Homo sapiens: one gene and its partners. The protein of the gene in region 5 purifies or fractionates together with the protein of the main gene of each other region. This does not show direct contact. Each region holds a gene or a part of one and is shown on either strand. Other genes may lie near its edges.

Evidence for each region.
Region 1: the proteins of UPK1A (region 5) and SPPL2B purify together in Homo sapiens (affinity purification with mass spectrometry; one large-scale study listed by BioGRID and IntAct). This does not show direct contact.
Region 2: the proteins of UPK1A (region 5) and NIPSNAP3A purify together in Homo sapiens (affinity purification with mass spectrometry; one large-scale study listed by BioGRID and IntAct). This does not show direct contact.
Region 3: the proteins of UPK1A (region 5) and ALG11 purify together in Homo sapiens (affinity purification with mass spectrometry; one large-scale study listed by BioGRID and IntAct). This does not show direct contact.
Region 4: the proteins of UPK1A (region 5) and SLC49A4 purify together in Homo sapiens (affinity purification with mass spectrometry; one large-scale study listed by BioGRID and IntAct). This does not show direct contact.
Region 6: the proteins of UPK1A (region 5) and MTCH2 purify together in Homo sapiens (affinity purification with mass spectrometry; one large-scale study listed by BioGRID and IntAct). This does not show direct contact.
Region 7: the proteins of UPK1A (region 5) and POMT2 purify together in Homo sapiens (affinity purification with mass spectrometry; one large-scale study listed by BioGRID and IntAct). This does not show direct contact.

Annotation. Positions count from the first base shown.
Region 1 is NC_000019.10:2,342,184-2,345,683, reverse strand, and holds part of SPPL2B (signal peptide peptidase-like 2B isoform 2 precursor), read right to left. Parts: intron 2,474-3,500; coding exon 2,392-2,473; intron 1,720-2,391; coding exon 1,645-1,719; intron 1,323-1,644; coding exon 1,260-1,322; intron 1,132-1,259; coding exon 1,032-1,131; intron 432-1,031; coding exon 354-431; intron 1-353. UniProt on the Homo sapiens protein: Intramembrane-cleaving aspartic protease (I-CLiP) that cleaves type II membrane signal peptides in the hydrophobic plane of the membrane. Functions in ITM2B and TNF processing.
Region 2 is NC_000009.12:104,750,683-104,754,182, reverse strand, and holds part of NIPSNAP3A (protein NipSnap homolog 3A), read right to left. Parts: intron 3,228-3,500; coding exon 3,017-3,227; intron 1,278-3,016; coding exon 1,119-1,277; intron 1-1,118.
Region 3 is NC_000013.11:52,018,898-52,022,397, reverse strand, and holds part of ALG11 (GDP-Man:Man(3)GlcNAc(2)-PP-Dol alpha-1,2-mannosyltransferase), read right to left. Parts: intron 3,486-3,500; coding exon 3,255-3,485; intron 1-3,254. UniProt on the Homo sapiens protein: GDP-Man:Man(3)GlcNAc(2)-PP-Dol alpha-1,2-mannosyltransferase that operates in the biosynthetic pathway of dolichol-linked oligosaccharides, the glycan precursors employed in protein asparagine (N)-glycosylation.
Region 4 is NC_000003.12:122,878,354-122,881,639, forward strand, and holds the end of SLC49A4 (solute carrier family 49 member 4), read left to right. Parts: intron 1-909; coding exon 910-1,025; 3' UTR 1,026-2,786; downstream 2,787-3,286.
Region 5 is NC_000019.10:35,665,063-35,669,316, reverse strand, and holds the start of UPK1A (uroplakin-1a), read right to left. Parts: upstream 2,801-4,254; 5' UTR 2,779-2,800; intron 2,509-2,778; 5' UTR 2,505-2,508; coding exon 2,421-2,504; intron 1,370-2,420; exon of another isoform or gene 864-1,369; coding exon 663-863; exon of another isoform or gene 632-662; intron 1-631. UniProt on the Homo sapiens protein: Component of the asymmetric unit membrane (AUM); a highly specialized biomembrane elaborated by terminally differentiated urothelial cells.
Region 6 is NC_000011.10:47,629,060-47,632,559, reverse strand, and holds part of MTCH2 (mitochondrial carrier homolog 2), read left to right. Parts: intron 1-848; coding exon 849-906; intron 907-1,472; coding exon 1,473-1,524; intron 1,525-1,945; coding exon 1,946-2,005; intron 2,006-3,500. UniProt on the Homo sapiens protein: Protein insertase that mediates insertion of transmembrane proteins into the mitochondrial outer membrane. Catalyzes insertion of proteins with alpha-helical transmembrane regions, such as signal-anchored, tail-anchored and multi-pass membrane proteins.
Region 7 is NC_000014.9:77,279,384-77,282,883, reverse strand, and holds part of POMT2 (protein O-mannosyl-transferase 2), read left to right. Parts: intron 1-2,420; coding exon 2,421-2,492; intron 2,493-2,803; coding exon 2,804-2,863; intron 2,864-2,955; coding exon 2,956-3,061; coding exon of another isoform or gene 3,062-3,200; intron 3,201-3,297; coding exon of another isoform or gene 3,298-3,347; intron 3,348-3,500. UniProt on the Homo sapiens protein: Transfers mannosyl residues to the hydroxyl group of serine or threonine residues. Coexpression of both POMT1 and POMT2 is necessary for enzyme activity, expression of either POMT1 or POMT2 alone is insufficient.

The DNA of each region.
Region 1 (3,500 bases), about 33 Mb from region 5:
GTTGCAGGCACAGGCCCGGGGAGAATGAGAAAGAGGGGGATGCAGGCACGGGCCCAGGAAGAATGAGGAAGATGGGGACAGAGGCACAGGCCCAGGAAGAATGAGAAAGAGGGGGTTGCAGGCACAGGCCCGGGGAGAATGAGAAAGAGGGGGATGCAGGCACAGGCCCAGCCACCCGAGCCCAGCTCCCGGAGTGGCCAGGGGGTTAGGGTTAGGGTGTTATGGTTACGGTGTTAGAGTTGGAATTAGGGTTAGGGTTGGGGTTGGGGTTAGGGGTCAGGGTCAGGACAGAGGCTAAGTCGGGGTGGGGCTGGAGCCAGAGAGGCCAGCACGGGCCCAACCGAGGCACTTACCGATGGTGCAGGCCACGAAGTATACCCTGGAGGACTGTACCTGGATGTCAAACCTGTGGCAGTAGGCCACCAGCAGCCCTGGGGGAGGCACAGGGCGGAGGCTTACTCGGGCCCGCAGAGCCTCAGAGCAGGGGCTTCCTGGGAGCGGGCGGGCACCTGAGCACCTGTGGGCGCCGTGGGCCTCTCGCTGCCTGGTGGCTGCTGTCATTTCACAGACAGGCCACACGCTCGCTCGGGACAGGGCTGCCATGACTCTCAGTGGGTAAACTGAGACCACAGTGAGAACAAAGTCCAGGCAGACACACCTGGCAGGACCCTGGGGACACTGAGGCTGCGAGGGTACAGTCTCTGCCTTCTGCAGCAACATGAGCTCACTGGGACCCGGGATCCAGGCCCCAGCAAGGACCCCTGCACAACCCCGAGCAGGATGGGGTGAGGCTGTCTGCAATCGGGGGGCCTTCCCCGCTCCCTAGGAACAAAGGGGGTCCCTACCCCACCCAGGCAATGCCCTCGCTGCCCAGGCACCCAGGCCTCAACGGCCCCAACCTGCCCGACTCTGACCCTCAGGGCTTTATCTCCAGCCGACGGTGTGCGGGCCACTCACTCCCAAAGGCAAACCTCAGCCGCCCGGGGCCCTGCCCCACAGCGTGGACCCGTGTGCTCCACCCGCCTCAGTACCTGGCACCAAAATGTCTCCGAAACCCAGGAGGGAGAAGGGCCGGTCACACAGGGCCAGAGGTGAGGAGTTCAGCCTGGGCACCTTCAGGACCATGGGCAGCTGCAAAGACGGGAAGAGGACAATGTCCTCCAGGACCCTCACCCGGCCGCGGGATGCCTCGAGCCCTATCCGCTCCGCGCAACACCTTGACCCATGGCAACCTGAGACCCTGCAGTCAGAAGACACACCTTCTCACGGGTGGCTGAGTCCGAGGGCCCAGTGGCCACCTCCACCATGATGCTGCTCCCACTCTGCACAGAATGGGGTTGAGTGAGGGAGCGTGGTGATGGGGTGGGGGGGCAGGGGAGTGGGGTGATGGGGCGAGGGGGCAGGGTGATGCGATGGGGGGGTGCAAGGGGCAGGGTGATGGGGGGTGATGGGGCAGGGGAGCAGGGTGATGGGGTGGAGGTGAGCGGGGTGATGGGGTGGGGGGCAGGGGAGCACGGTGTGGGGTGGAGGGGGACGAGGGGGCGGGACGAGGGGGCGGGGTGATGGGGGGGGTGATGGGGCGGGGGTTGCGAGGGGGCGGGGGAGCGGGGTGATGGGGTGGAGCAGGGACAGGCAGTCGCCTACCTTGGTCAGGAAGGGCGTGATGAACACGAAGAAGATGTCGTAGAGGAACAGCACCAGCAGCAGCAGCGTGCAGGCCTGCGAAGCCCACGGCTGAGGGCGGCCCCCACCCCGGCCCGTGCCTCCCCCACTCCCATCTCATGAGGCCCAGCGCCTCCTCCTGGGAGGCAGCCTTTAAAGGAACCTGAGCAGAGCGTGCCCAGTGCCAGGGACGCACCACGCAGGAGGAGCTTTGGAAGCAACATCAGGTAGGGATTTACGGGCAAAAGTCAGGCTTTTAGAGTCTCCACGTAACAGGAAGGCGGGGACGGGAGGGCGGAGGCCTGTGCCACGCAGGGCCGGCTCTGGGGATACAGAGGGCCATCCTGGGCATTCAAATGCCGCTTGCTTGGGGTGCTGTGGGGCCCTCACGGGAGTGCAGCCGCCTGGGGCTTGACAACATCCCCGCACTCCCGGTACCACCTGAGGCCAGTTCCTCCAGCCCTATTCAACCACTCTCACCACCACCTCATCTAGACATGAGTTGCCCCTGCCGGGAACCGCCCCGCAGCCACCCACCCAGGCCGCCTCAGCGGGGGCTTTGGGACCCAATCTTCAAGCCCCACCCTTCACAACAGGCCTAGGCGGCCATCCCCAGGGCAGTGAGCAGGAGCACAGACCTGCAAGGACCACAGCCCCACACGGGCCAGGCTAGGATGAAGGGCCCCCACTACCCATGCTGCCCCGCAGCCGTGCCCTCCCTGCACTCACCTTGAAGGTGGGCAGACGGATGGTCTTCAGCATGTAGAGGCAGAAGGCGATGCCCAGGGCATCCTGGAGGACCCAGGCCCACCTGCAAGACAAAGCAGCATCCTCGCCGGGGCAGAGGCTGGCTGACCACCCAGGACGCCGCCTCCCACGAGCCACACAGGGCCCTTGCTCTCAGCCAGCACGCAGCCCCACTGCCCTTCCACCTGCCCAGGGGATGACTCTGAGGACCCCAGACCTGTGGGAGGACCCCTGCTGTTACAACTCCAGCAGGGCTGGCGGCACAGGCCCCACCCCAGGGCCCACCCTGCGGAAGCAGGTAGAGGAGCCCACCACTCGGCAGCCAGGACAGTGGACACAGGCCTGGCCGGCTGCGTCTCCTCGGTCGCTGTCCCCAGATGGTGGGGCCAGGACGGTGGACACGGGCCTGGCCGGCTGCGTCCCCTCAGTCGCTGTCCCCGGATGGTGGGGCCAGGATGGTGGACACGGGCCTGGCCGGCTGCGTCCCCTCAGTCACTGTCCCCGGATGGTGGGCGTCACGCTGTAGGCAGGGGTCACAGGCTGTAGGCAGGGGCCAGGCAGAGGGTGCGTGCGCAGGAGGGCTTGGGCACTGACCCCTCCAAACTGTTTTTATTTTGTTTTTGAGATGGAGTCTCACTCTGTCACCCAGGCTGGAGTTTGGTGGCACGATCTTGACTCGCTGCAACCTCCACCTCCCAGGTTCAAGCAATTCTCCTGCCTCAGCCTCCCAAGTAGCTGGGATTACAGGCACACACCACAATGCCAGGCAAATTTTTTTGTATTTTTAGTAGAGATGGGGTTTTGTCATGTTGGCCAGGCTGGTCTCAAACTCCTGACCTCAAGTGATCTGCCCGCCTCACCTCCCAAAGTGCTGGGATTACAGGCATGAGCCCCCGTGCCCAAACTGTTTATTAAATTAAAACTTGTGCCACACCAGGTTTCCTCAAAGAACCTCTGGGTCCACAGTGGGTGGGGCTGCCATGCGGTTGGTGCCCTGGGGCAAAGCACAGAACTGCCTCCTGCACAAGGCCACGGCCCCTGCAGCCAGCCGCAACTTCGGCTCTCTCCTGGCCCCACGAAGCCCCAGAGTC
Region 2 (3,500 bases), on a different chromosome or scaffold from region 5:
AAGAATTTTCCAATCTATATTTTCATTCTTTCCAATTTCCACTATGTTTTTCTTCATATAATTTCTCCCTATAAGTTTCCATTTTTAACAGGAACAGCAAAGCAAAGAGTGGACCTGAAGTGATATCTTTGAATTTTGGAGGAAAAAAGACAAACCTAAAGAGATGGTTTTATTTTTCCTAAATATCCAGGTAAATACTTGAAAAGTATTGTACACTTTGGACAGAAGTATAGGGCTGGTGGAGAGAAAGAAACTCTGGGACAAGTAGGAAAAGCATGTAAAAATTTCCAAGCAGTGATGTACACAGAGGAGGAGAACCAAGATTTGACACTGTCAGAGAAGTGAACTATTTTATTTAGATAGTGCTGAGAGCTGAGGGGACACCTAAGTAGGTAAAGATCCAAGGAAGACTTTGTAAATTTTTTGTAACCTAAATACACTACAAAGTTGGGAATAATGGGGGAAGTAAAATAACATTTAAATAAGTTTATGCTTTTCTAATCTGACCTTTATTTAAAACTGGATTGAGGTAATAGTTTCTTTAAGTCAGCAAGAAGTGAAATCAGCAAGAAGACAAATCTTAAGCAATTACTTTCAAACTGAGAAACAAGAAAGAAGACACAAAAGTTAGATTAAAGTAATATAGCTTGGCAGTTTCACTTAATCTGTTTCCCCCAAATACTCAGTTTTATAAGCAAAGCTGTATTTAATGATTTAAGATTAGTTATAATTTATGGAAATACTTTTACATTTTAAAGATCATATTATTTTAAAATTATGGCAAAACTTCTTATGCTATCCCTTACCTATCAACACGTTCTCTGCTCCCAATGCACAAATTCTCAACCTCTACTGACCATGTCAGCTTTCTCTATAACACAGTTAAGCTTTACAAATCTGCAAGGTCTCAATTTGAAAAATATCTCATTATTTTATGCTCATTTTTTTAAAGGATGGGGTAAGAGCTCCCATTTATTTTTACCACAACAATCACTGTATGTTTCTATATAAAACAAAGAATTAATTTTATTTTTTTCCAAAGGAACTTCAGTTTTGATCACTTAAGTTCTTTAGTATTTTATTCATCAAAACTCAGTGACTAAGAAGGAAGGACTTACCTTCTTTTGGAGGTTTTTCTAATTTGCACCATGGTACCAGATAAGTAATCTCACTCTCTTGTTTATCAATGAGAGCCAAATTTGGAATGAGGAATTGTTCTTGCCATTCCTTATCTTTGGCCAAGGCTTTCCGAACTTCAGTTCGATGAGCAAAATTATCTGTGGGAAGAAAAGAATTAAGAAAAATAAAAAATTCAATTTTAAATCACCTGTACTTTTCTGGGTTTCATTCACATCAGCAATGGTCATTGATGCCATATAAGAACCTTGTGTTAGGCCTTTGGAGACACCAACGTAAACAGATGTGACCATCTGCCCTGAAGTTGCTCAAGGACAAAAAGGGCAGTAGAAATGCAAACTAACTGTAATGCCACATAATAGGCTTTATAGGCTCAACCATATAGTAGGCAGTTTTGTGAATTAGGTAAGTTATTGAATCTTTCTGTGCCTCACTTTCTGTGAAATTGAGATAATAAGACATCTACCTCCAGGGTTGTATGAGGATTAAATTAACACATGAAAAGAGTTTAGAATATAGCGGTTGGCACTAGTTAATACTCAGTATATGTGAACTATTCTTACTTGATTGAGGCATTTAACTTATAGTGCTAGTTTAGAGAAAGACTGTTTTTCTTTGGTGGTGGTGGGTAGTCAAGTTCAGATACACCCTGAATCAAATTTAACATGAGTGAAGTTAAAACATCTTGAATCAAATTTAACATGAGTGAAGTTAAACCGTACTTTTTAAGCCTCTTCTCCTTTGAACAAACAGATTTCAAAGAAATAATGCTGATTCTCTTATTGTCATCCATTCTTTCTCCCCAGCACTTATTTCTCTTCTATTTAAGTTACCCAAACAGTTATATACATTTGCCAACATATGGGCCTAGTACTATAATTACCATTAGGACCTCATAAGACTAATGGCAAGAGAGGTTCATATGGTTTACATTGGGATAAGGAAGAATACCTATCTTACAACTTAAGTGAGGTATATCAGAACTTAGTTTTTTTAATGGGCTGTGATACAACTTGTACCACATCTAAAGCATAAAATGTATTTTAATGGGGCTTTTTCTATTAACAGGGAAAAACCCTAAACCAAACACTAAATGAAATTATTAAAAATTCTTTAGGTATCATCAAGTCCTGATGTAGACACTGGAGTAACAAGCATTCTGGGCATTCTTGTAACTTATTCTCCTTCCTCTACTAAACCAGGCGTAGGTTAGTTTCAACACGGGAAGAACTCTCTTTCATTCCTTTTCTTTTACCTCCCTAGAGTAGTATGACAGTGAATTCCTCAAAACTCTGGGGGTACAGATATGAAACAAATGTGGTCTCTAAACATAACAGAATTATTAAATCTCAGAGTTCAGTGAGGATTGAAAGTTAACCATCATCCCCTATAAACCTCCATATTGTGAAGTCCCTTAAATGGTTGAATTATTTCTGCTAAAATACTGATATCCAGCCCCCTAGCTTCAAAAAGAGAAAAGATACTTCTCCTTTCCTTTTGTGATCTTAATCCACTTGGACTTTTACAATTGCTGCTTTAAATTTTTCATGAACTATCTTTACAGCAAACCATTTTAATATTTTTCTGAGGTTTAAAGTCTAGTTCACAATTTTATCGCTTGATATATGAGATGCCATGTCTTCCAATTTATAATGTAATATAATGTAATGTTTAAGCAAGGGGTTAGAGGTGTACCACTGGGAAGAATAAGAACTGAATTTATTTTTTTGGTATTGCTTTTCAAAAGTCTTAGTTAACCTGTATGTATCTAAAATAATATACATCCAAGAACTAAGTTTTATGTTACATTTAACAGAATGAAAATCTATACTGAAAAATGAAAATCTATACTGAAAGCCAAAATTGGATGACTCTTTACCATACTTCCAAATATGAAACACTGTATTCATTCTGCCTCCAAATTCTACACTCCAGTATCCAACCAATTCAGAGTGAGCTGTCCGAAGATGAGCGTTTTTCTCAAAATTTTCCAGGAACTCATTCATCTTTGAGGGCTTAAGGTAATAAGAACGAAATTCATAGAATATTCCATCGTATTGTCTGGGTCCCGTAGCAAAAGATGAGCACATCTGAAGAAGATAAGACAAATGTAAATATCTTGAGAAGACAGGATTCATTATATTGTGTTAAAACCTAATCTGAATCTGGTACAAGGGACACTCATAGACTCATTACTCATGTTTGTACTTCTGTTGTCAATTCTCAATATGTTACTGATGGAGGGTGTCCAGGTTCTTGGTGTTTGAACAAAGAACTGGACAAAATGCACAAAGCAAGGAAAGAATGAAGTAACAAAAGCAGAGATCTATTGAAAATGAAAGCACACTCCACAGGGTAGGAGT
Region 3 (3,500 bases), on a different chromosome or scaffold from region 5:
TCCATTTGTTTTTTCTTTCTTTTTTTAAGACAGGGTCTCGCTCTGTCTGTCGCCCAGGCGGGAGTACAGTGGCGTGATCTTGGCTTATTGTAGCCTCCACCTCTCGGGTTCAAGTGATTTTCGTGCCTCAGCCTCCTGAGAAGCTGGGATTACAGATGTGTGCCACCATGCCCAGCTAATTTTTGTATTTTTTAAGTAGAGAAGGGGTTTTGCCATGTTAACCAGGCTGGTCTCAAACTCCTGGCCTCAAGTGATCTGCCAGACTTGGCCTCCTGAAGTGCTGGGATTACAGGTGTGAGCCACTGTGCCCGGACGGGCCACAAATTCTTTGATACTTTTCTCACTGAGAGGTGGCATCTAAGTCCCCTCCCCTGGAATAACACCTGGCTCTGTGACTATTTTGACCAACAGAATATGGCAAAAGTGACATTGTGCCAGTTTCCCAACATAGACTCTAAGGGACTGGCAGCTCCTACTTCCTGTCTCCTGGAATGCTCATGCTAGGAGAAGACAGCTGTCATGTACGGAGTCCAACCAGCCCGAGATTGCTATGTTGTATGCAAGCACAACCAAGTCACATGAAGAAGCTCCTCAGTGAGAGAGATGCCCGACAGCCCCCAGCAGGTCCAGTTATCCCAGCCCAAGAACCAGAATGTGAGTGAAAAAGGCTTCAGATGCCTCCAGCCCCAGCTGCCATCTAATTGCAACAGTATGATGGAGACCAAACATGGCAGCCCCTAAACCATGTCACAGAACAGTAACCCCAAAACTGGTTTACTATAGCACTTAGAATAAAATCTAAACTAATTTCCCTGCTCACTCAAGTCCTGTGTGATCTGGAACCTGCCTCCCTCTGTCACCTCCCTTCCCATGCTCTCCTTTGCCCTCCAGGGTGCAGCCAAACTGGCATTCTTTTTTTTTAACACGCCAAGCTCCAACCAGCCTTAGGGGACTTGCAGTGGTTGTTCTCTCTACTCTGAATTCTCTTTTCTCATTTTCACTGTCTTTTCATAAGGCAGGCAGTTTAGCATGTGGTTCAGAACATGGGCTCTAGTGCCCCAGTTTTCTTCTTTGTCAAATGAGGATAATGGTAACAACTGCAAAAGGCTGTTCTGAGGATCAAGTGAGCTAACACATGTAAAGCACTTCAAACAATACCTAACATACAATCATCACGCAGTGAATGCAGCTGTTTTTGTCATTCAGATTTTGATTGTTATCAGATATTTCCCTGATCACTCTATCTAAAGTATCAAGTCACTCCTATATTACCCTATTTTAACTTTTTATATAGCACGTCTCACTATTTGATATTTTTCTTCTTTGCTTATTATCTTGTCTCTCTCAACTAAAATCAAACGTCCAGGAGAGAAGGACTTGATCGATCTTGTTCTCTTAATCTCAACCCCCAGAACAGTGCCTGACACATAGCAGGTCCCCAATAAATACTGCTAGGTCGAATGAAAAGTGCACTGTAGTATGTGTTGAGTTAGGAAAGGCTTGTAGAAATTAACTGGGGAGAAAAAGGTTATTTCAGAAGAAAAGAACACTATATAGAAAGGGAAGGACTCGAGAGAGAGCATGATGTGTTCAGGGAGCTGCTCCTTGTTCTGCATGTCAGAGTAAAGTACCTGTGAAGGAATGGGGAGGGATGAGAAACGCAATGTGGCCAGAGCAAGATGAAAAAGTATCTTCCAAGTCATATTAATGATTTGGTTTTTTTCTCCTTGTAGATGGGTTAGGAGTAATAGAGGCTGCTGGGGACTATGTGTACAGATATCATGAAACTTTACCACCGCCATCAAGAGGTAGATAATCTGGTTAGAGAAGAAAAAAGTATTATCAACGAGAGTAGGAAAAGCATCACGGAGTTGGGAATTATGAGAATTCTTTGTATTTAGGCAGTTACAGAAGATGGCAGAGCAAATACAGGGGTAGGGCCTGGAAGCTAGGATGGGCCAGGATTACAGAAAAGTATAGCTGAGGTAATTCTGTGTGAAGGCCTTGGCACTGAATGAAGGGTGTGTACCAGGAAGTAGGGTAACCATGAAGAGTAACAGTTTTCCTCATATGATAAAATAATGGAACCTACTATGCTTTTTCCTTTCTAAAAGAGAATCATAAATATTTTGGGGGTATGGGGGGTGGTGATGACGAAGCCTCAAATATTAAAAGATGTATAACACCATATTCCTTCTAACATGGTAAGTTGAGACTATCCAGCTGGTAATGATATAAAAATTTGAGTCAAATAGATACTTTCATAAAGATTATTCCTGTGTGCCACAACTGCCTGAAAGTATTCAGGCTTAAAGTGCTCTGACATACTTGGTATATTTCTGTCAATTACTTAATCTCTTCTGTATATGCTCTCCCAAGGGGACCAGTTATTCCCATTAATTTATGCCATAAAAGGGCAGATGTTTTCCCCATCCACTGTCCATTTCTTTCTTTCTTTTTTGTTTTCCCTTGAGACGGGTTCTCACTCTGTCACCCAGGCTGGAGTGCAGTCAGTGCACAATCATGGCTCACTGTAGCTTTGACTTCCCAGGCTCAGTCAATCTTTCCACCTCAGCCTCTGGAGAAGCTGGTGCGCATCACCATGCCCAGATAATTTTTTGTAGAGACAGGGTTTCGCCATGGTGCCCAGGCTGGTCTCAAACTCTTGGGCTCAAGTGATTCACCTGCCACGGCTTCACAAAGTACTGGGATTACTGGTGTGAGCCACCATGCCTGGGTTTGTCTATTTCTTTATCATAGTAACTAAAGTCAAATAAGATCATATAAGGTATGTGGGCACATGAAAGAAATATTTTCTTATTGAAGAACAGTTTAAAAAGGAATTCATTTTTTACTTTAGGTACTTTAGAAAGATGAGGCCGGGCACGGTGGCTCACACCTGTAATACCAACACTTTGGAAGGCCGAGGTGGGCGGATCACAAGGTCAGCAGATCGAGACCATCCTGGCTAACATGGTGAAACCCTGTCTCTACTAAAAATACAAAAAATTAGCCGGACGTGGTGGCGGGCACCTGTAGTCCCAGCTACTCGGGAGGCCGAGGCAGGAGAATGGCATGAACCTGGGAGGCGGAGCTTGCAGTGAGCCGACATCGTGCCACTGCACTCCAGCCTGGGTGACAGAGTAAGACTCTGTCTCAAAAAAAAAAAAAAAAAAAAAAAGATGAATTTCTGGATAATAATTTTTAAGAAATGGAACAATATAGCAAATTAGCTAAGAAAGATGGATACCTACTTTTTCTGCAGGGCTCTTAAAGCACACCATAAAACTCTTTCTCCTCCTCCACCAGCATTGCAGTATGGATGAAAAAATGCAATCACCATTTGATTTTTCCCATTTTTGCTAGTTGACACTAATTTTTTCTTTCTCTGTAGCAGCAGTCTGATTCCCCAAAGGACAATGACCAAACACACACATAAAGTTCCACATACAATGAGCCCAGGGAAGAATAATGAATAAAAAAACCTGAAATAAGAGGAC
Region 4 (3,286 bases), on a different chromosome or scaffold from region 5:
AGCTATTCACTTCAGAGCCTTGGGATTGACTGGCAGATGGGATTGGGGTAGAGGAAGGCTGAACAGATGCACAGCCCTAGGGTCCCTGGAGCTCCAGGAAGCAGCTAGAGGCAGCCACAGTGGTCAGTGTGTGTTGGTAGCAAATGGCTGAGGATTGTCTTGTTGGAGAATCCTGAATTCATGAGAGAGCATTTCTAAAGAACCATGTTCTTGACACATTAAATCAAACAACAACAGAATTGCCCATTCAGATGATGCCTATAGGTTTTCCAATAATTGGCATCATATATAACCATTCATGCTGGTAGAGAAAAAGACTAGAAAGAAATAAGCCAAAATATTCACAGTGATCTCTCTGGGGACAGAATTATGATTGATTTTTTTGTATGTTTTATTTTTAAATATATTTTCTCATCTATTTTACAGTGATTTCTACTTAATGTTTTTGCTGAGAAATAGATATTTCTATCCAAAACATATAAAAGTGTTATTTCAAAATTCAGATGATTTTCGTATTTGTCTTTTTAATCCATCAGATATTTATAAACAGGGACAAGAGTGATGATGATAGAGGGTACTTAAAAAATAATTATCAAACTAACATTTAAAGGTGATTGATTTTTTTTCTTTGAAGTAATTTATTTTGTAACCAAAGTCAAGGTGGATTAAATTGATGAAAAGTTATGAACAATATTGATTAAAAATATTCCACATGGAAGCCCCGTCATATATTACACACATCACTTAGTCTCCAGATTGTCACTATTTATTGAAAGCCAGTTTCTAGGCCTTCCAGGGTACATTTATTATAAGTACTTTTTAATGCAGAGCAGATTCCTTCCGGCATACAGGTGGTGGTCTGCTGGTGATACATGAATGTTTAAAACTGCATGTTTTTTTGTCTTACAGAGTTGTCTTGGTTCAACTGGTGCCTTCCCGGGTCGTGTTTGCTCAGTCTCCTCCTCATTCTGTGCTTCAGGGAATCCTATGACAGACTCTATCTTGATGTGGTTGTCTCCGTTTAATAGCACAGACTTGAAGGAGTTTAAAAGGAGGCTGGAAATCAATACTGCACACTGCACATTTGCTCAGAATTGCACATCTAACAGGAAAAGAGGGAGAAGAAAGAAACTTCATTCAGAGGTTTTGTTAGGTTACAGATTATCACATTAATTTAATTACTACTAGGTAATAATAATGGGAGACTTGAGTGATAATAGGGGATTTTAAAACTCTACAGATGGCATACCTGTGCCTGCTTCTGGGGTTGGAAGTGTGACTTCTTACACATAAAGCACTACCTAAGTAATTCTCTCTCTGTTTTGTGCCAGTGCTAAACTACTGATTACTTGTAATTATGAAAAGAAATAAAGGGTGTCTATCATATGAAGATAACGCCTTCCCTAAGTCACATATCAGAATAGGAAGATATGCCACTAACTTCTAAAGAAGTTCAAACCCTGTATCCAATTTTAATGATAAAATAGCCAAGAGGTATATCGATGATGGAAATTAGCCACATGTACACTACATTTTTTCTAATAAAGCCATTTCTTATATGACTCCTTATTTTAATCAGGTCAGAAGCCCTTGGCCATCTTTACTATGGTGATCAGGTGCTTTCCAGTGACTTCTGAGCATAGGCACTGTGTCTCCATCTCAACTTATCCTTGTTTCTGTGAAATACAATTTCATCTACTAGGCCCTTAAATAATTATGTGAGGGTGTCTAAATGTTTAATATGATTACATTAAATATTGTATGAAAAAATGTAATTCCATTAGGATCTAGCACTTTGTTACAAGTGAAATGACAAGTCACATGGACATACTGTGTCTTCTGCCTGTATATGGTGGCATGAGATGTAATGTCCAGAGCCAACAATTATTTACCAGGGTTAGATTTTATTCAGTGACCCTTGTTTAAAAATAATAATTTATCACATTGAAACTTTCAGCTCTGTCGAATGATTTCTGAATTACATCCTGTGTTTCAGCTTAGGTTGTAAAATACTCCGTTCTCTGTGGAGTCAGCATATTTGAGAGGGCAGCGTTTTGCCAGTACCTATCTTCTTTCTACAGAAGATAGCTTTTTAAGAAATAAGAGTTCCACATTGAGTGGCTGTCAGACACAGATTTCACTGTGACGTAAAATACACTGCAGTGAGAATATGGTATCACCACTATTCATATTTACATCATTCCCCTCACACAGAAAAACCAACCCTTTTCCCAAAAAGTCAAGAATACTGCTATACCTTTATTATTCTCAGCTTCCTCCAGCCCTTCTTGTTTTTCCTCACTTGAAATTGAACCTTCATTGTCAGCTAAGTATATATACTTTTGTGTTTTCCTGGACAGAGTGCAAGTGGCTCTTATCAGCCAAGGTGGTGAAGGTTCAGGAAAGCTGGGCAGCACTGGGCCCTGCTCCTCTCTGCACCTGTGTGCGCCATGACACACCCACATGCAGATTCCCAAGTCTGTCTCCCCTCCCCCTTAGCAAGTACAAGGCTGTGCATTAACTCACCTCGGTCCTAGAGGAGTATCCTAGTACTGCTTGGCAACTTCTAAGACCCTAACTTGTGAAACTAGGGAAGTAAGAAACCGTTCAAATTTAACATCTGTCTTCAGTCATCTTTAAATCGTCTCTCTTTATAAACACTCTGCTCACTTAGCAGAAGGACTGAAGGAACTAAGGAACTTGCTAAAGAGAAGAAGAAAACAAAAGCTAGACTTAGTTCCAGTTAATTCTGTTATTCTTCTGAAATAAAAATGAAATAAAAGGAAGGCAGAATTCTCTTTTTTTTTTTTTTTAGACAGGATCTTGCTCTGTGATGGTGCAATCTCAACTCACTGCAACCTCCATGTCCCAGATGCAGGTGATCCTCCCGCCTCAGCCTCCCGAGTAGCTGGGACTACAGGCACGCACAACCATGCCTAGCTAATTTTTCTGTTTTTAGTAGAGACAGTGTTTCTCCATGTTGCCCAGGCTGGTCTCAAACTCCTAAGTGATCCACCCGCCTCAGCCTCCCAAAGTGCTGGGATTATAGGCGTGAGCCACCACACCAGGCCAAGAAGGCGGATTCCTTGAAGATGATTCAAAGCCAGCCATTAAGGATATCCGTAGACCATGACCCGGATGCTAAATAAGCACCACCCCTTCCTGTTCAGAGGGAAGAGAGAAAGGAGAGGGAAGAATTATAAGGTATTTGGTTTTAGTCCGAACTATTATGTTTGAGGATGTTGTGGTATAACATTCTGCAATAGTAAGATTTCTTGTGTAGAAC
Region 5 (4,254 bases):
GTTATTCTTGTGGGCAGAGATTAAGAGCACAGCCTCAAGAGCCGATCTGCTCAGGTTGAAACTGGCTCTGCCATTGTCTCAATGTGTGACCCTGGATAAGTGACTTCACTTCTCTGAGCCTCAGTTTCAATCTTCATCAAACAGGGTCATGATGATGACAGTATCTCTTGGTGGACTATGAGGAATAAATGAACTAATCCAGTAAACCATTTAGAACAGCTCGTGGCTTGTAGTAAACCATTATTAAATGGTAGCTGTGCTATTATTGGCAGAGTTCATGAGCATGGACTCTGGAAAGCAGCTAGCAGGGGTTCAAATTCTAGCCCTGCACTGGGTGCAGGTAGAGGGGCTCAAGCCTGTAATCCCAGCACTTTGGGAGGCTGAGGCAGGAGAATCATTTGAGCCAGGAGTTTGAGACCAGCCTGGGCAACATAGTGAGACCCCCATCTTTACCAAAAAAAAAAAAAAGAAAAAATCCCAGCTCTGCTACTCAAGCCTGGGTTATTGGGCTGTGGGAAGACTGAATGAGATGATGCCTGGGATCCCTGAGTGTGACACCATGGGGAACTCACACTAGTGGCTGGGGCTGCACCTGCTACTATGACTCAGTGATGCTGAACTCCGTTTTCAGTGTCCCCATCCCCCAACCCCTGGAGTCTCACCGTGAGGACCATGGACCGGCGGCGGCAGAGTGCGGCACCCACACCAAAACTGGCTACCATGAAGAAGGAGAAGCCGCAGAAGATGGCAATCCAGGCACCAGCGAAGACGTCATCCTTGCCTGAGACTCCCATCAGTGGGTATACACGGTACTGGTCGGCTGTCACCCATATGGTCTCAGCAAACAGGGACAGGCCTGACAGCTGGACAGAGCGGTGGGTTAGGAAGGTCTGCTCGGGGCCAGCAGCCCTGGCACCAGGCATCTCCACGAGCAAGTTCCCTCCCCATTTGGAGCCTCCACTGCCCTCTCAGTAAAGTGGGCAAAGACCTCGCCTTCCATGAGCAGCGATGAGGGTGAGCAGAGGCCAGGAGAGAAGAGACAGCCCAGCCAGACAACCGACCCCCACGCCCCAGCTGCCAGTTTCTTCGGGGATAAAAGGGGATGCCACGTGGAAAGGCTGGAGCAGTGGACTGGCACAGAGGAGATGCTTGGTCCATCTGCCCTCCCTTGACAGTGCTGTTATTCCCCGAGGAGGGGAACATGGCCATGGCCATAAACATTACAAATGGGCCAGGCAAGGTGGCTCACACCTGCAGTCCCAGCATTGTGGGAGGCCGAGGCGGGAGGATTGCTTGAGCCCAGGAGTTTGAGACTAGCCTGGGCAATAGTGAGACCCCGTCTCTACAAAAAATAAAAAAATTAGCTAGATGTGGTGATGTGCACCTGTAGTCCCAGCTACTTGGGAGGCTGAGGCAGGAGGATCAGTTGAGCCCAGGAGTTGGAGGCTGCAGTGAGCAAGCATCACACCACTGCACTGCAGCCTGGTCAACAGAGTGAGACCCTGTCTCTAAAACAAACACACGGCCAGTCGCGGTGGCTTACACCTGTAATCCCAACACTTTGGGAGGCTGAGGTGGGCAGATCACCTCAGGTCAGGAGTTCAAGACCAGCCTGGCCAACATGGTGAAACCCCATCTCTTCTAAAAATACAAAAAGTAGCCGGGTGTGGTAGCATGTGCCTGTAATCCCAGCTGCTCGGGAAGCTGAGGCAGGAGAATTGCTGGAGCCCAGGAGGTGGAGGATGCAGTGAGCCGAGATCTCGCCACTGCACTTCAGCCTGGGTGACAAAGGGAGAATCTGTCTGAAAAAAAAAAAATTAGCCGGGCGTGGTGGTGTGCGCCTGTAATCCCAGCTATTCTGGAGGCTGAGGCAGGAGAATCACTTGAGCCCGGGAGTTAGAGGTTGCAGTTAGCTGAGATCAGCCACTGCACTCCAGCCTGGGCAACAGAGTGAGACTCCGTCTCAAAAACAAAACAAAACAAAACAAAACAAAACAAAACAAAACAAAAAACACAAAACCAAAACCCAATGTTAATTGAAAGACACTGTTGTTTTTCCTTCTTGTGGCCTCCTGTGCACCAGGCTGTCACTTTATATCCATAGTGATGCTGATGGTGATAGCCAGCATTGGTCGGGCACTTTCTCTGAGCTGAGGGCCACACATGGATTAATCCACATGACAACAGCCCACACAATGAGGACACAGTCTATAGATGAGGAAAGAAGGCACAGAGAGGGACAGTCGCTTGCTAAGGTCACAGAGCTGGGGAGAGGCAGAGCTGGGATTTCAACCCAGGCTGTGCTGACCACTGAGTCTGCCCGAGAGACAGTTCTGGACCCTCATCCCCCACCCCGAGCTCAGGACTGTCCCCTCCCCACCACACAACCACTCGGCTCCCAGCACTGGGGCGAGTCTCACCAGAATAATGATATTGCCCACAACTAGCAGGCCCACCACAACTGGAGATCCCTTCTCGGCCTCCGCTGCTGCCGCAGACGCCATCATCCTGGGACACATGAGCAGGGATGAGGCCAGGAGCGTAAAGGGCCAGCCGGACCCCCCATCTCTGAGCCACACCCTGGCTTCGAGGGGTTGCTCCAGCTCTCTGCGGGGCCCAGGCTGGTACTGATGTACCCACAGCCCTGGTGGGGAGGCATTTTGCACAAGAGGACACCCGGGCTCCGGTGGGGCAGTCACTGGCCTGAACTTGGCACTGCCCCTCCCTGAGCCTCAGACCCCTCATGCCATACCCAGACTCCCAGGGCCCCCTCCTCACCTTCTCTGTCTGCAGCCTCTCTGGCCAGCCCCACCCACCGTGGCTCCCTATATACGCCCAGGCCCCTCCTTGGGCTAGTCTCCCAGGAAGGAGGGAGGGTGTGTGTGTGTGTGTGTGTGTTTTGGGGCACGGCAGTGGGGTGGACAAGAGGCTGAGCCGGCAGACCAGGCTGGATGAACAGCTTTGATGGGCTCCCTGCCACCCCCATGATTTATAGACCTGAAATACCAGATTGTGTAGGACCCATGGCCTCTGGGTCCCAGGCTTTGTTGGCGGTGGAGGAGTTGGAGGTGGAGGGGCGTGCGCACCACCTGGTGTCTCTCTTGCTAGGACATGGGCCTTCCTGGGAATAGGAGCAAGATCCAAATCAGGGCGGGGCGTGGTAGCTCAGGCCTGTAATCCCAGCACTTTGGGAAACTGAGGTAGGCGGATCGCTTGAGCTCAGTAGTTTGAGACCAGACTGGGTGACATAGTGAAACCCCGTTTCTATAAAAAATACAAAAATAATTAGCCAGGCTCATGCCTGTGGTCCCAGCTACTTGGGAGGCTGAGGTGGGAGGATGGCTGAACCTGGGGACAGAGGTTGCAGTGAGCCAAGATCGTGCCATTGCACTCCAGCTTGAGTGACAGAGCCAGGCCCTGTCTCCAAAACCAAACAAACAAAAAATCCACTTCGGACCCACAGGTGGGTCCTGAATCCCAGAAGTGTCTCTCCTGCTGTGTGACCTTGCACAGGTGGCTGCTCCTCTGTGAGGCCGGGAGCCCGTGGGGAGGCCCAGGCAGGGACCCCTGCCAAGGCCAGGGCTGGACCGAGGCAGAGCAGTGGGGAGATGAGGGGACAGGTGGAAGGGGCGCTTAGGAGGCTGACTACATGGGCGGTGGGCTGAGGGAAAGGATGGCACCCAGGATAGGTGTGTGAGGGGAGTCTGAGATAAGTGCAAAGATGGGGGAGAAGAACGTGCTAGAAAATGAGAGGGGGCACACCGGGCTTGGTTGAAGAAAAGTCCCCGTCGCCCCCCAACACACGCATGGACCAGACATTTATTTCTTCAGGTGCAGAATGAGAAACCTAGGTTCAAATCCCGGTTCTGCCTCTTCTGGGCGGCACGACTTGGCTTGTGGATTTGCCCATCTGCGAAATGGGTATCATCAGACCGCTTCCCTGGCGGAGGTGGGGACTGAGCCAGCGCGTGTCCCCAGGGGCCGCCGATGCTGCCCACGAGGCCACGGTCTCTCCGATGCCACGCCCTCGCAGCGCAGGGCTGGCTCCATGCAAAAATGGTGGCCCAGGGCCCCCGACACCGTCCCCAGAACTTCTCAACCCCAAGGCTAGGCCGTGTATTGCCTCTGCTGTGGGAGCAGTGGCTCCCCACTGCGGTGCCTGCGAATTTGGCAAATGACACTGAAAATCCCATCGTCAAGGCACTGGTTTGGTAATAAGATACATGAGATGTTTTCCGATTAAAATGGTTAATT
Region 6 (3,500 bases), on a different chromosome or scaffold from region 5:
GGTGAAACCGTCTCTACTAAAAAATACAAAGAAAAAAAATTAGCCGGGCATGATGGCGGGTGCCTGTAGTCCCAGCTACTTGGGAGGCTGAGGCAGGAGAATGGCGTGAACCCGGGAGGCGGAGCTTGCAGTGAACCGAGTTCGCGCCACTGCACTCCAGCGTGGGTGACAGAGCAAGACTGTCCTAAAAAAAAAAAAAAAATGCAAAAGCCAATGGTAGACCTGCTTACATTTGCAATCCCAGAACCTAAATGCAAAGATTATAATTTAATTTTCTTTATTACTTCCTTACAGAGCCCTAGAGTAGAAAGATAAACTAGGAAAAACACAGCAGCTCTAAGATACTGCACAGTTACTGGGTTGTAGTCACAAAACAAAATTGTTCTCTTCTCCCAAAAATGTGAGTAGAGACTAAATGGAGCCTGTCATTTATCTAGAATGATGTCAGACTCTCCAAAATCACTTACCAATAAGAGAGCAACTTAATAATCTCAATAAAGGCCTCATATTTTTTATTTCAGCTTAATGACTTTGTTGGTGACCTTTCCTGTTTCTTTATTTTTTTCTCTTACCTGTAAAATTGAGAAAACAACAGAAGCCTGCTTTGCAGAGAAATTTTGAGAAGTAACTATAATAGAACATTGAGATCCATGAGTGAAAAGTATGATAAAATGACAATGAATGAGATCTTTCACATCCCATTCAAACTCTTCTTGACTCCAGCCAGGGCAGGAGGGCTGTGTCATTCACTTTCTTATCCTATACCACGATATCCACCCACATTCCTTCTCACAGGCATTTGAGTGTCATTTGTTTAGATTTCAGAAGTGTGTGTTGATTGTTTCTAGACAACTCGAGAGATGATCGCTCGTTCTGCTGCTACCCTCATCACACATCCCTTCCATGGTATGTTTGCAGTTGACAACTGACCTTTCTTTTATAACCTGATCTCTCCTGACCACTTAGATAGGTTGACGTGGGAGTTGACTAAAATGCCTTGCCTGCATGTTTTTGTTTGCTTGCTTGTTTTGGCTTTTATCCAATTTATCCAGATAGCAAAATGTCTTTAGGTGGAAAATCTTTTTTTTTCCCAGGGCTATCAAAATCTATCTTAACATAGTTTTTTTTTGTTTGTTTGTTTTTTGTTTTTGAGACGGAGTTTCACTCTTGTTGCCCAGGCTGGAGTGCAATGGCACAATCTTGGCTCACTGCAACCTCAGCCTTCCGGGTTCAAGCAGTACTCCTGTCTCAGCCTCCTAAGGAGCTGGGATTACAGGTGCATGCCACCACGCCTGGATAATTTTTGTATTTTTAGTAGAGATGGGGCTTCATCATATTGGTCAGGCTAGTCTTGAACTCCTGACCTCAGGTGATCCGCCCACCTCGGCCTCTCAAAGTGCTGGGATTACAGGTGTGAGCCACCGCACCTGGCCTTAACATAGTTGTAAACATCTTTTCTCTATATTCCACAGTGATCACTCTGAGATCTATGGTACAGTTCATTGGCAGAGAATCCAAGTACTGGTAAGTATTTTTGTTTTCACATACTCAAGGAGATCTTTTGAAGCCAAAGTACTAGAATAATACTACTTTGTATTTTTATGATACCCTTACAATTTGTAGAACAAATTCGTATCTGATGTCATTTGATCTGCACAAAAAACAATAAAATGGGAGAAAATATACCCAGGCAGGTTTAGTAGCCTACGTAGGATTTCAGAGTAAGTTGCAGAGCCCCTGACTCCATATGACTATACCCCTAGGTAGTTAATATTTTCACTTCTATCTCCAAATTTAGCTATCTTTGCAGAGTGAGAGAGTGCTAGAAAAGTGTGAGGGAAGGAGGTCGTGGATTTGACCTTGTCCAATGTGATAATTGAAATTATTTTGTTTATAGCTCCAAAAGAATCTTAATATATTTTACCTTTTCTTCTTGTGTACGTAGTGGACTTTGTGATTCCATAATAACCATCTATCGGGAAGAGGGCATTCTAGGATTTTTCGCGTGAGTAAATGTTGATTAGTGTGTAATTTTTGCATGAGTGGGAAACGTTTTCTGAAAGTAAGAATAGTGAGTCTTTGTTTAATCCTTGGGGAAAACGTACTCCCTGGGCTTACCTCACGTTACATTCTATTTAGGCCCCTTATTTTTTTTTCTTTTTTCTCTGCAGAAAGGCATATTTAGGCCCCATATGACTAGAATTATCTTGTAAAGATCCCAAACCTTTACTTCTAGATACTTAAAACATTTGAGGCCGGGCGTGGTGGCTCACGCCTGTAATCCCAGCACTTTGAGAGGCCAAGGCGGTTGGATCACCTGAGGTCAGGAGTTCAAGACCAGCCTGGCCAACATGGTAAAACCCCACCTCTAGGTGTGGTGGTGTGTGCCTGTAATCCCAGCTACTCGGGAGGCTGAGGCAGGAGAATTGCATGAACCCGGGAGGTGGAAGTTGCAGTGAGCTGAGATTGCACCACTGTACTCCAGCCCGGGTGACAGAGTGAGACTCCGTCTCAAAAAAATAATAATAATTAATAAATAAATAAGGAATTTCTTTTTTTAACAAAGGACTTAATTCCAAGTTTCTACCCTTGTAGTAAACTCCCAATTCTATATAGATAATAAAATGAGAAAAATTAAATGTTGAAAAATGGGGAAATCATCTTAACTTGTATTTTCCTTACCGTAAAAGAGTAAGTTTTTGCAAGGCTTGAATTTACTTTGGAAGAACTTAGACTACTACCCTCATTCTTCTATGAGGAAAAATTTTGCATCATTACCGAAATGGTGTTTTTTGTTTTTTTTTTTTTAATTTTCAGAGTATCTCCCCATACGGATTTTGAATATCATAAATACCCTGTGAGATAGGCAGGACAGCTATAATTAGTATCACTTTAGAGATTAAAAAACATTGATGCTCTGAGAGTTTCATCTGCTGCCTGTCACATCGCTGCTGAGTGCTGGAGCTGGCATTTGAAGCTGGTCTTCAATCCGTGGGGAAATGCTCTTCCCACTATTCCATGCTGCCTCACCTAGGTCACCCAGACCCTAGAAATGTGGTTTTTGATGCCTCTCATCTGTATCTGTACTTGGGACCATTCTTGCTTTGTAATTTTTCTCGTCTTTTGCTCTGCCAAATATGAATATCAGATAGCTTAGCAAAATCATTTTTTTAAGCTAGTCAAAGCAAAACAATATTTAAGTCTCTTCTGCAAAGCACCTCGCAAATCTTTTGCCTCCCTGCTTACAGTTATGAATAGTAAGGTGAGCCACTGAGGGTATAGCCGACCTGCATTTTAAACATAGGAACAAAAGTCACTGGAGATCAGCTTCAAGTACAGCTGTGTTAACGAGAATGAACTAGGTATGCGGGCTGGATTCTGGTGTTTGATTCCTTTTTTACTTCCCTAGAATGTTTTGTGACCTCTAATTATTTGACAAACATTTGTACTGAAGAGCCTGTCATGTTACTGATCACATTTTTTGGTTCTTATTTTTATTG
Region 7 (3,500 bases), on a different chromosome or scaffold from region 5:
TCACTCTACCCACAGCATTGCAGGGAGGTGTAGCACTTGTTATTTTTCCCCTGGTAAGCCATTGTCAAGTGGACTTCCCTGGAAGTGATTATGTAAGCAGTACTCAGTACATATAGTTGACTTATTTCACCAGATTAAATTTTAAAAATTCAAATTTTGTCATTTTTGCGCATTGGGAGGTGATAAGTTGACATTAAGCATCTCTGGGTCACTTCCTTTCTGACTCTCTGCTTGTAGCTGTCACTGTGGCCTGATGACATAGCTCTTTTGAACATGTGCCTGTCAGTCAGAATATCATTCTGGGCCTGGGTCAAATTTTAAGACTAAATCTACGAGTTTCATTTTGTCTTTCATTATCTAAGAAGTAGAGTCAGAGAAGAAAAGGGAAGTAATGAGAGCTTTCTTATTCAGCCAACAAAGAGTCAGGGAGGGGAGAGAGATGAAAACAGTGAGTCCAGACTATAGAAACTGCAGGGGCAGGGCTCTTCCGCTGGCTGAGTAGTGGCCCGGGACCTGGAGGAGAAGGCTGCCTTGCCTGGTGCAGTTACAGGAATGAGCCCATCCAGATTTCAGCCATAGAGAACAACTTACAAGTACATATGCCTGTGATGGTTGCAGATTTTTCTTTCCTCTTTTAGTTTAGCAACAGAGCAGGATTTCTCAGAGTTTAATGTAGTGAATAAGATTCCCTTGGCTTGGTACAGTTCTGGCTGGAGTCCTTGGGTTTGGGACCAAACTGTACAATTTGAAGGAATTGGTTTCCCTCAGCAACTGCCGCAGGGGTCCAGAATGATTCATTCCTCATTCCCAGGTCCTTCAAAGGGCCGCAGTGACGCTGGGGCCGTGCAGCTGTCCCCTTTGTGTCTGATGCCCTGGATGCACTTTTGACCTTGGAGGCACAACCTCTCCACCATGTAGAGGCCTGTAAACTATTCCCAGCCCCTTGCTGAACTGGATTCATAAGGCACTGGGTGGCAGTCCACTGAACTTTCTGGGTCTTTCTTAGGCTATACCAGTGGTTCTTAATTGAGGGTGATTTTGCCTCTCGGGACTTTTGGCCATCTGTGGAGAAATTTTTGGCTGGGAAACTGAGGGGTTGAGGGTAGGAGTGCTACGGGCATTCAGTGAGTGGAGGCCAGGAATGCTAAACACTCTGCAATGCACGGGACAGTCCTCACAGCAAAGACTCATCCAGCCCGAAATGTTGGGAGTGCTGAGGTGGAGAAGCTCCGGCCTAAGTCATGGCAGCTGACTCCCCTTCTGGGGAAATGCCTTTTCAGTCTGTCCCAGTGATAAGGCAGAACCCAGTCCTAGTGGTTAATATCCTGGATCCTGACCCTACTCCTTCCTGTTTTAGCAAAGACCTGGTTTGCCCTGTAGAGAAAGGTTAGCAGATGTTCTTGGCTGCTGGATTAGGGAGGCTGAGTCTGGGTCCTTCAAACCAAAGCATGCATTAGGGTTGATTTCTCTCCCAATAGATGAAATGTGTTCTTGGAGGGCAAAATATCTAATTTTTTATGTATAAAGCACAAGTAAGATGTACAGTATAAAGTATTAAAATGTCATGGAGTGTGTTTAGGGAGAAACTTGTCTACAAAGGCTCCTGGTAGAGGGGCAGTAGTGGAAAAAAAAGGTGGAGAAGCACTAAGCTAAAGCAACCTCTTCCAAGTCTAGGCACGCATGAGAGTTTCTGCTTTTCTGTTTGAAATTGGCCCCTGAAGGGAACAAATAAGTAAGCCTTATTATTTATTTATTTATTTATTTATTTATTTATTTATTTATTTATTTTGAGACTGAGTCTTGGTCTTTTTGCCTAGGTTGGAGTGCAATGGCATGATCTCAGCTCACTGCAACCTCCGCCTCTTGGGTTCAAGTGGTTCTCCTGCCTCAGCCTCCCAAGTGGCTGGGATTACAGGCACCCACCGCTACGCTCAGCTAATTTTTTGTATTTTTTAGTAAAGACGGGGTTTTACCATGTTGGCCAGGCTGGTCTTGAACTCCTGACCTCAGGTGATCCACCCGCCTCGGCCTCCCAAAGTGCTGGGGTTACAGGCATGAGCCACTGCACCCGGCTGTAAGCCTCATTTTATATCCCCTCTCTCCCACCATTTTCACACCTTGTCCTTAGCTTGGCAGATGGGTATATATTTTGTGCCCATTGGAACAATTTCCTCTTTCCCTTCTTTTTCCCTAGAAGGTTGGAATGGACCCCTTATGGGAGATGGAGGCTTGTCTGGGAGAAGTAAAGCAAGTGTCGTAGGTAGGCAGACAGCAGCTGCCTGATTCTTCCCTGCAAGGGAAGGGAAGGAGAGAAGGTTCTGCTCGGCGCTTGGCCCTATATCAGAAAAACCTGGGCCCCACATTTCTGTCAGCCCTCTAGATCTCTGTCTTGACTAGCTTTCTTTGCTACCTTCATGCAGGGGAACAGTGGCCTCAAACCCAAGGACAATGAGTTCACGTCCAAACCCTGGCACTGGCCTATCAACTATCAGGTAGGATCCAAGGCTGGGGCTCCTCCCAGGAAATGGAGCCAAGAACAAGAGCAGGGAGACCGGTGGAGGCGGGGGTGGGTGTACTAGGGCGGCAGGGCGAGGGGCCTCCTGGGATGGGTTGGCCAGAGGTGGGAGTATCTGTTTTCTGCCCTAATTCTGACCCTGCTTCCCAGAGAGCTCGTGTAGAATTTGCCAGCCTGAGGTTCGTGTCCAGGCTCCCTGTCTGTGGAAGGTGACCATCTTCCTCCCCCTAATGGGTGTGGCCGAGGATGGGCTGGGCCTGGGTCAGCAGGGTGGTCTCTATTCCACAGGGCCTACGCTTCTCAGGGGTCAATGACACAGATTTCCGAGTCTATCTGCTTGGCAACCCGGTGAGTGCCTAAACATTCCCGGCTCAGGCCCTGGAGCACTTGCCCGTGGAGAGCGGCTGCGTTCTCATCTGCCCATTCCCATTTCTGCACAGGTGGTTTGGTGGCTGAATCTGTTGAGCATCGCCCTCTACCTCCTCTCAGGGAGCATCATTGCTGTAGCCATGCAGAGAGGGGCACGGCTGCCAGCGGAGGTTGCAGGTCAGGTCCTCTGGGCTCTCCCTCCCCTGACCTGGCGGCAGCAGGGCACCTGCACCCCTGGGGAGGGCCGGCTGCCTGCTGATGGGCCATCCTTTGCGTTTACCACCCCACACCTTCCCTTATCCTTTGCTTTTGAAAGGTAACAACCCCCAAGTACCCAGTGCTGTGTTAAACACTTTACTTCCTCCCAACAACACTAGAGCGTTGGCTATTATGACCCCCATTTTATGGATTAGGAAACCAAGGAACCATGAGATTAAGAAACTTGCCCCAGGACATACAGCTAGTAAGTGATAGAGCTGAGGCTCAAACCCGTGCAATCTGACTCCACAGCCCTCACTTTTAGCCCCATGCTGTGTACAGAGCTGCCCATCTTTTCTGCCACCTCCTTGTTCCATGGCCCTGTCCTCTCATGGGCTAGAGAGGAGCCTCCAGGGTT